2 linked regions of the Homo sapiens genome follow. The protein of the gene in region 2 interacts with the protein of the main gene of each other region in a biochemical or structural test. Each region holds a gene or a part of one and is shown on either strand. Other genes may lie near its edges. The genes, in order: NOTCH3 and CNTD1.

Region 1 (3,812 bases), on a different chromosome or scaffold from region 2:
GTATTTTTGGTAGAGATAGGGTTTTGCCATGTTGCCCAGGCTGGTCTCAAACTGCTGAGCTCAAGCAATCTACCCGCCTGGGCCTCCCAATGTGTTGGGGTTACAGGCGTGAGCCACCACACCCAGCCTACCAAGTTTTTGTAGAGATGACAAAAACTCACTATGTTGTCCAGGCTGGTCTCAAAGTCCTGGGCCCAAGCGATCCTCCCATCTTGGCCTCCCAAAGTGCTGGGATTACAGGCATGAGCCACTGTGCCCGGCCTAGCATAATCTTTTTTTTATTTTTTAAATTTGAGAAGGAGTCTCACTCTGTCACCCAGGCTAGAGTGCAGTGGTGCAATCTTGGCTCACTGCAATCTCCACCTCCTGGGTTCAAGCTACTCTCGTGCCTTAGCCTCCTGAGAGACTTGGATTACAGGTGTGCACCACCACGCGCAGCTAATTTTTGTGTTTTTAGTAGAGATGGGGTTTCACCATATTGACCAGGCTGGTCTCAAACTCCTGACCCCAGTGATCCGCCCGCCTGGGCCTCCCAAAGTGCTATGATTACAGGCATGAGCCACTGTGCCCAGCCTAGCATAATCTTTCTAACACTCAAGTCAGACTTCTTATTTGCCCTCACTAAAAACCATCCATGGCTCCCTGCAGAGAAAACGGCCACTCACCAGTCTTGCCCATGGGGCAGGCACAGTAGAAAGAAGCCACGCGGTCATGGCAGGTGGCCCCATGGAAGCACACGGCTGTGGCACAGTCATCGATATTCTGACTGCAGCTCTCGCCTGTCCAGCCATTGACACACACGCAGCTGTGGCCACCCAGCGTGTTGAAGCAGGTACCCCCATTGTGGCAGGCGTTGGGCTGCAGCTGACACTCATCCACGTCCTCCGTGCAGAACTGGCCTGTGGCACACAGATGCAGCAGTCCAGCCACCTGGCGCATGTCCACCCGAGGCCTGCCTCCCCGCTCCCTCTGGCCGCAGTGCCCACCTGTCCACTCAGGAGGGCACTGGCAGTTATAGGTGTTGACGCCATCCACGCATGTCCCCCCATTGAGACATCGGTGTCCTGGACAGTCGTCCACGTTCACTTCACAATTCTGACCCTCAAACCCTAGCAGGGAAGGGGGCAAGGATGGTCACCGCCGGGCTGGCCTGCTGTCCCCACGCCCACCCCTCTGACTCTCCTGAGTAGGGCTCACTCACCAGGAAGACAGGCACAGTCGTAAGTGAGGTCGCCACTCTGCCTGCAGGTGCCCCCGTTACGGCATGGTGAGGGTGCACAGGGCACCGCGGGGTTCTCACATAGTGGCCCTGTGTAGCCAGCTGGACACTGGCAGCGGAAGGAGCCAGGTGTGTTGAGGCAGGTGCCACCATGGCGGCAGGGCTCACCCACCCGGCACTCATCCACGTCGCTTCGGCAGCTGCGGCCCTGGTAGCCAGGTGGGCAGGAGCAGAGGAAGCGTCCATCGGGCCCCACTGAGCAGCGGGCACCGTGGGCACAAGGGCTGCTGAGGCAGGGATCTGGCAGGGAGCAGTCAGGGCCTGGAGGGACCAGGACAGGGTGAGTTTAGGACTGACCACACCCCCGACTACCTCCCCTCCAGACTCTTCCCCTCTCACCTCGGAAGCCACGGGGGCACCGGCATGAGAATCGGGCGGTGCCAGCCACCACTGAACTCTGGCAGACACCACGGCCAGCACAGGGGCCTGAGTGACAGGGGTCCTCCAGCTGACACCGCTCACCCACCCAGCCAGGCGGGCACCTGTGGGCAGAGATGGCTTGGTTGGGCAGCACAGGGCAGGATGGCCCCAGACACAAAGATACACACAAGACAGGCAAGAAACACGCAGGGAAACAGAGCAGCAAACACACATTTGCTGGGAGCAGTGGCTCACGCCTGTAATCCCAGAACTTTGGGAGGCTGCGGCGGGCAGATCACTTGGGGTCAGGAGTTCAAGACCAGCCTAGCCAACATGGTGTAACCCCGTCTCTACTAAAAGTACGAAACTTTGCTGGGCATAGTGGTGCGTGCCTGTAGTCCCAGCTACTCAAGAGGCTGAGGCAGGAGAATTGCTTGAACTCGGGAGGTGGAGGTTGCAGTGAGCCAAGATCGCGCCACTGCACTGCAGCCTGGGTGACAGAGTAAGACTCGGTCTCAAAGAAACAAAACAAAACAAAACACACATTCATTCATGCAACGAATATTTACTGAGTACCTACTACGTTCTGAGCAATACAAATACAGCAACAAACACAATGAAAGGGGTCCCTATCCCTCTGGATCCTTGCAGCCAGGTCCAGGCAAGGAGAACATATACGAATAACAAATTAATATACAACATGCTGGCAGGGGGCGGTGAAAGCCATCAGAACCATGAAGGATGTAGTCAGTTGGGTCACAGCCCCTGAAAAGATGACATCCATGTCCCAGAACCTGTGACTAGGACCTTACTTTTTTTTTAAATGGCTCTTTGCAGATGTAATTTTTTTTTTTTAAGAGACGGAGTCTTGCTCTGTCACCCAGGCTGCAGTGCAGTGGCGCGATCTTGGCTCACTGCAACCTCCACCTCCCGGGGTTCAAGCAATTCTTTGTCTCAGCCTCCTGCGTAGCTGGGAGTACAGGCACACGCCACCAGGCCTGGCTATGCAGATGTAATTAAATGAGAGATGTCAAGATGAGATTATTCTGAATTATCCACCTGGGCCCTAAATTCAGTGACAAGTGTTCATACAAGAGAACGGCTCACAACTGTAATCCCAACACTTTGGGAGGTCAAGACAGGATAATCACTTCAAGCCAGAAGTTCAAGATCAGCTTGAGCAACATAGGGAGACTTTTTTTCCACAAAAAAAAATTAAAAATTATAACCGGGCATGGTGGCAGGAGCCTGTAATCCCAGCTACTCTGGAGGCTGAGGCAGGAGAATCGCTTGAACCCAGGAGGCGGAGGTTGCAGTGAGCCGAAATTGCACCACTGCACTCCAGCCTGGTTGACAGAGGGAGACTCCATCTCAAAAAAAAACAAAAAACAAAAAAAACAAACAGGCCAGGCGCAGTGGCTCATGCCTGTAATCCCAGCACTCTGGGAGACTGAGGTGGGCGGATCACGAGGTCAGGAGTTCAAGACCAGCCTGGCCAATATGGTGAAACCTCGTCGCTACTAAAAATACAAAAATTAGCTGGGCGTGGTGGTGCACTCGTGTAGTCCCCGCTACTCAGGAGGCTGAGACAGAAGAATTGCTTGAACCTGGGAGGCGGAGGTTGCAGTAAGCCGAGATCGTGCCACTGCACTCCAGCCTGGGTGACAGAGAGAGACTCCACCTAAAAAATAAAAATAAAAGATTAGCTGGCCGTGGTGGCTCACACCTGTAGTCCCAGCTTCTTGGGAGGCTGAGGTGGGAGGATCGCTTCAGCCTGGGAGTTGAAGGCTGCAGTGAACTAAGATTGCACCACTGCACTCCAGCCTGGGTGACAGAGCAAGACTCTGTCTCAAAAAAAGAGAGAGGCAGCCAAAAGGAGATTTGGGTGGGAGAAGGAAGAGAAGAAGACAGAGACAGGGACTGGAGTGAGACAGCCACTAGCTGAGAAACGTCTGGAGCCACCAGAAGCTGCAAGAGTCAGTTCTCCCCTGGGTCCCCATGGAGAGGCTCAGCCCTGCCGATATCTTGATTTCAGACTTCCAACCTCCAGAACTTCAAGAGAATAAATTACTATTGTTCAAGCTACCCAGTTTATGGTAATTTGTTAGAGCAGCCGTAGGAAGCTAAACCACAGGGTTAAGGGGGATAGAATGATGGGGTCAAGGAGGTGGAA
Region 2 (3,812 bases):
CAATGCAGTGGTGTGATTTTTGGCTCACTGCAGCCTCCACCTCCTGGGCTTAAGTGATCCTCCCACTTCAGCCTCTGGAGTAGCTGGGACTACAGGCGCAAGCCACTATGTCCAGCTACTTTTGTTTATTTTTTGTAGAAATGAGGTCTCACTGTGTTGCCCAGGCTTGTCTCCAACTCCTGGGCTCAAGCAATCCTCCTGCCTTGGCCTCCCAAAATGCTGGAGTTACAGGCGTGAGCAACCCTGCCTGGCCTTTGTTGTTGTTGTTGTTTTGTTTGTTTGTTTGAGACAGGGTTTCACTCTGTCGCCCAGGCTAGAGTACAGTGGCGCAATCATGGCTCACTGCAGCCTCCAACTCCTGGGCTCAAGTGATCCTCCCATCTCAGCCAAGTAGTCCACATAGTTGTGGGACTGCAGACATGCACCACCATGCCCGGCTAATTTTTTTTTTTTTTTTTTTTTTTTAATGAGATGGGGTCTCACTCTGTCTCCCAGGTTGGAGTACAGTGGTGAAATCTTGGCTCACTGCAACCTCTACCTCCCAGGCTCAAGGGATCCTTCTACCTTGGCCTCCTGGGTAGCTGGGACCACAGGCATGTGCCACCACACCCAGCTAATTTTTTAAAATTTTTGGTAGAGACAGGTCTTTTCCATGTTGCCCAGGCTGGTCTCCAACTCCTGAGCTCAGGCAGTCCACCCACCTCGGCCTCCTAAAGTGCTGGGATTACAGGTGTGAGCCACTGCGCCCAGCCATGACTAATTTTTAATTTTTGTAGAGACAAGGTCTTGCTGTGTTGACCAGGCTGGTCTTGAACTCCTGGGCTCAAACAGTTCTCCTGCCTTGGCCTCCCAAAATCCTGGGATTACAGGCATGAGCCACCGTGCCCAGCCTGGAGTTTAACATAATAGCAGGTTATCGTTATAAAGGGAAATGAACAAGCCGAACTTGGGCCTCCATTTCCAGTTTTATAAAAGGAAAACAAGGAAACATTTCAGCCCTATCCTAGATTTTTCCCTCTCAAATCTTGCACACCCATCCTAATCCTGGGTCTTGGCACTTCTGTAGGTTGTCCTCTGTTTTCCTTTAACTGATGGGTGAAATGCTTTCTGTTAAATGAATTCTCACCATGCTGGTCCTGCTCAGTGGTGCATACCTGGCTCCAACACTCATGGTTTTGGATGAAAGCACTTGCTGCAATGATTCCTACTGCCAACAGCATGAAGTCTTCCTTCACTGAAGTAAACTTTTCCCTGAGTGATTAAAACCACATTAATTTTAAAGCTAGAATGGAACTTGATCTTCCAAATCATAGGGTCATGGAACTTCAACTATGAATTATTTGTGTCGATCATCTTGGATTTTTTAGACATGGAAGGAAATGGTCAAGTAATAGCTCATTGACCTGCTCTCCCATTCTCCCCCAACTTAACTGGGATTAACATGAGCCTTATGTCTTGAATGGTTTATAGGCCTTTTTTAGTTCTATCTGTTTCCCTAACAATTGTAACTGTGAGGCTTTTAACCAGTCTGACTTTACAGTAATCAAACACTCTTGTCCAAGTTGCAACCTTGTGACTGTTTTTTTTTTCTTTTTTCTTTTTCTGAGACGGAGTCTCTCTCTGTTGCCCAGGCTGGAGTGCAGTGGCGCCATCTCAGCTCACTGCAAGCTCCGCCTCCTGGGTTCACGCCATTCTCCTGCCTCAGCCTCCCAAGTAGCTGGGACTACAGGTGCCCGCCACCACGCCCGGCTAATTTTTTGTATTTTTAGTGGAAACGTGGTTTCACGCTGTTAGCCAGGATGGTCTCGATCTCCTGACCTCGTGATCTGCCCGCCTCAGCCTCCTGAAGTGCTGGTATTACAGGCATGAGCCACCGCGCCGGCGACTGTTTTTTTTTCTAAATGACTGACCAAAGCAGTCCAGTAACCTTGAGTTTTATGCAGCTATAAAGGAAAAACTAGGAAAGGAAATATATTAATTAAAGTAATTTAAATTTAAAAGTAAAAGCCTTTAGGGTTTTCCTGACCAGGCTCAGTCACCTGCATCCAAACAACATATTGGAACTAATGAGAACCAGGTAGCCTGAGTAGGTTATCTGGGACTGGATGCCATGCTAGGCTAATTCCATTCCCCAAGTTCTTGTGGTCTGTCTCCCCTTCCCTGTTCCTGGAAGGAGCCTACCCTATAGGAGTTGTCTTACCCTTGCAGCTGACTGGGAGTGGAGTTCTCAATTGAAGCCCTCAACAGGCTCTCATATATGGGTTCATGCAGAAGATAGACCAGGTCGAGCAGTGTCAGGCAGGTTGCATGCAGCCTCATGGCTGGAACCAAACAGCCATTGTATCCTAGATGGAGTATGGGAATGATAGGGAGAATTTATGATCATGTCTTCTCTGATCATAACCACAGTTGTGACATAAAGCTGTTGAGGTGCTAATGTGCTTCCTGGTTGCTATGTTCTACTACAAGAAACCTGTTTAGCTGGAGATCAGTTTTAAAGGACAAAGGTAGAGGTAGAGAAACCTCCATCTGTAGTATACATACAATTAGCATGTAGTTGTCCCTCTCTTATCTTATGCCTCTCTATAAAGTCACCTCTTTGATCCTGCAATAAGAGTGCCTAGTGAGTCCAAACAGAAGCCAGTTGCTAAGACCTCTGAGCTTTCCCTGACAAGTGCCGGAGGGAACACCTGTTTCAGTCATCCAGAGACACCATCAAGCTTCCTACTGTTCCTCATTGGCAGGTTCTGCCCACTGTTCCCAAACCCCTGTGCACATTTTTTTTTTTTTTTGAGAAGGAGTCCGCTCTGTTGCTCAGGCTGGAGTGCAGTGGCATGATCTCGGCTCACTGCAACCTACACCTTCCAGGTTCAAGCAATTCTTGTGCCTCAGCCTTCCAAGTAGCTGGGATTACAGGTGCCCACCACCACACCCAGCTAATTTTTGTATTTTTAGTAGAGATGGGGTCTCACTATGTTGCCCAGGCTGGTCTTGAACTCCTGGCCTCAAGTGATCCACCTACCTCAGCCTCCCAAAGTGCTGGGATTACAGGCATGAGCCATGCCCCCCCATGCACATTTTGTATTGCCTTCTATGGAAGTCTCCAACCCATATTCCCTAACACAGTAAGATACCTAAAACCTCTAGGAGCGTCTCCACATATGCCAGGGGAGTGGGCAGATTAATTCGGAAGTTCAAGGACTTCAAAACATCAAGCTCTGATTCCAGCAGTTCTTCTTTAGTGTGTAGATAGCCTAGAGCCTGGAGGAAATTCAAGACTGTAATGTTGCTGATTATCTGAGCAAAGAAAAGAGAGGGAAAGAAGAATGTTAGGATAAAGTTCATACGTCTTGACAGAGTGCACAAAGCCCTTCATAATCCAGCCTATTCCTTCATCTTCAGTCTTGTCTCTTGGTAATTCCCCCTCACACTCTGCTTGTCATTCCAAATTGCTTACAGTTCCCAAACCCACCATGCTGTCCCTCTCCAAGCCACTACACAGGCTGTTTTCTATACCTGGATCTCCCTTCCTTTCCTCCCTAATTCCTCTCCCTCTTCTCTTAGGATCCTCCCATCTCCCACCCACCCCATTTCAAGAAGTCATTTTCTCTAAATACACTTCCTTGACTCTCCAAGGCTGATGAGGTACATTTATAGCCCTCTGTATTTACATTAATCAGAGCTTTTTTTTCCACACTATTTGTATGTGTCTTTTCCCATTACATAATAGGTTCCTTGTGAGCACAGACAATATTTGTACTGTTGTAGCCATGGCACCTGGTGCAGCATCTGGCCATAGAATAAACTCAGAA

Evidence for each region.
Region 1: the proteins of CNTD1 (region 2) and NOTCH3 form a complex in vitro, tested with the Homo sapiens proteins (one study listed by BioGRID).

What each region holds. Positions count from the first base shown.
Region 1 is NC_000019.10:15,190,759-15,194,570, forward strand, and holds part of NOTCH3 (neurogenic locus notch homolog protein 3 precursor), read right to left. Parts: intron 1,762-3,812; coding exon 1,619-1,761; intron 1,541-1,618; coding exon 1,202-1,540; intron 1,110-1,201; coding exon 987-1,109; intron 900-986; coding exon 666-899; intron 1-665. UniProt on the Homo sapiens protein: Functions as a receptor for membrane-bound ligands Jagged1, Jagged2 and Delta1 to regulate cell-fate determination.
Region 2 is NC_000017.11:42,805,207-42,809,018, reverse strand, and holds part of CNTD1 (cyclin N-terminal domain-containing protein 1), read right to left. Parts: intron 3,298-3,812; coding exon 3,135-3,297; intron 2,346-3,134; coding exon 2,201-2,345; intron 1,252-2,200; coding exon 1,155-1,251; coding exon of another isoform or gene 1,127-1,154; intron 1-1,126. UniProt on the Homo sapiens protein: Plays a role in the different steps of crossover formation during meiotic recombination. Participates in the crossover differentiation step of crossover-specific recombination intermediates through its interaction with PRR19.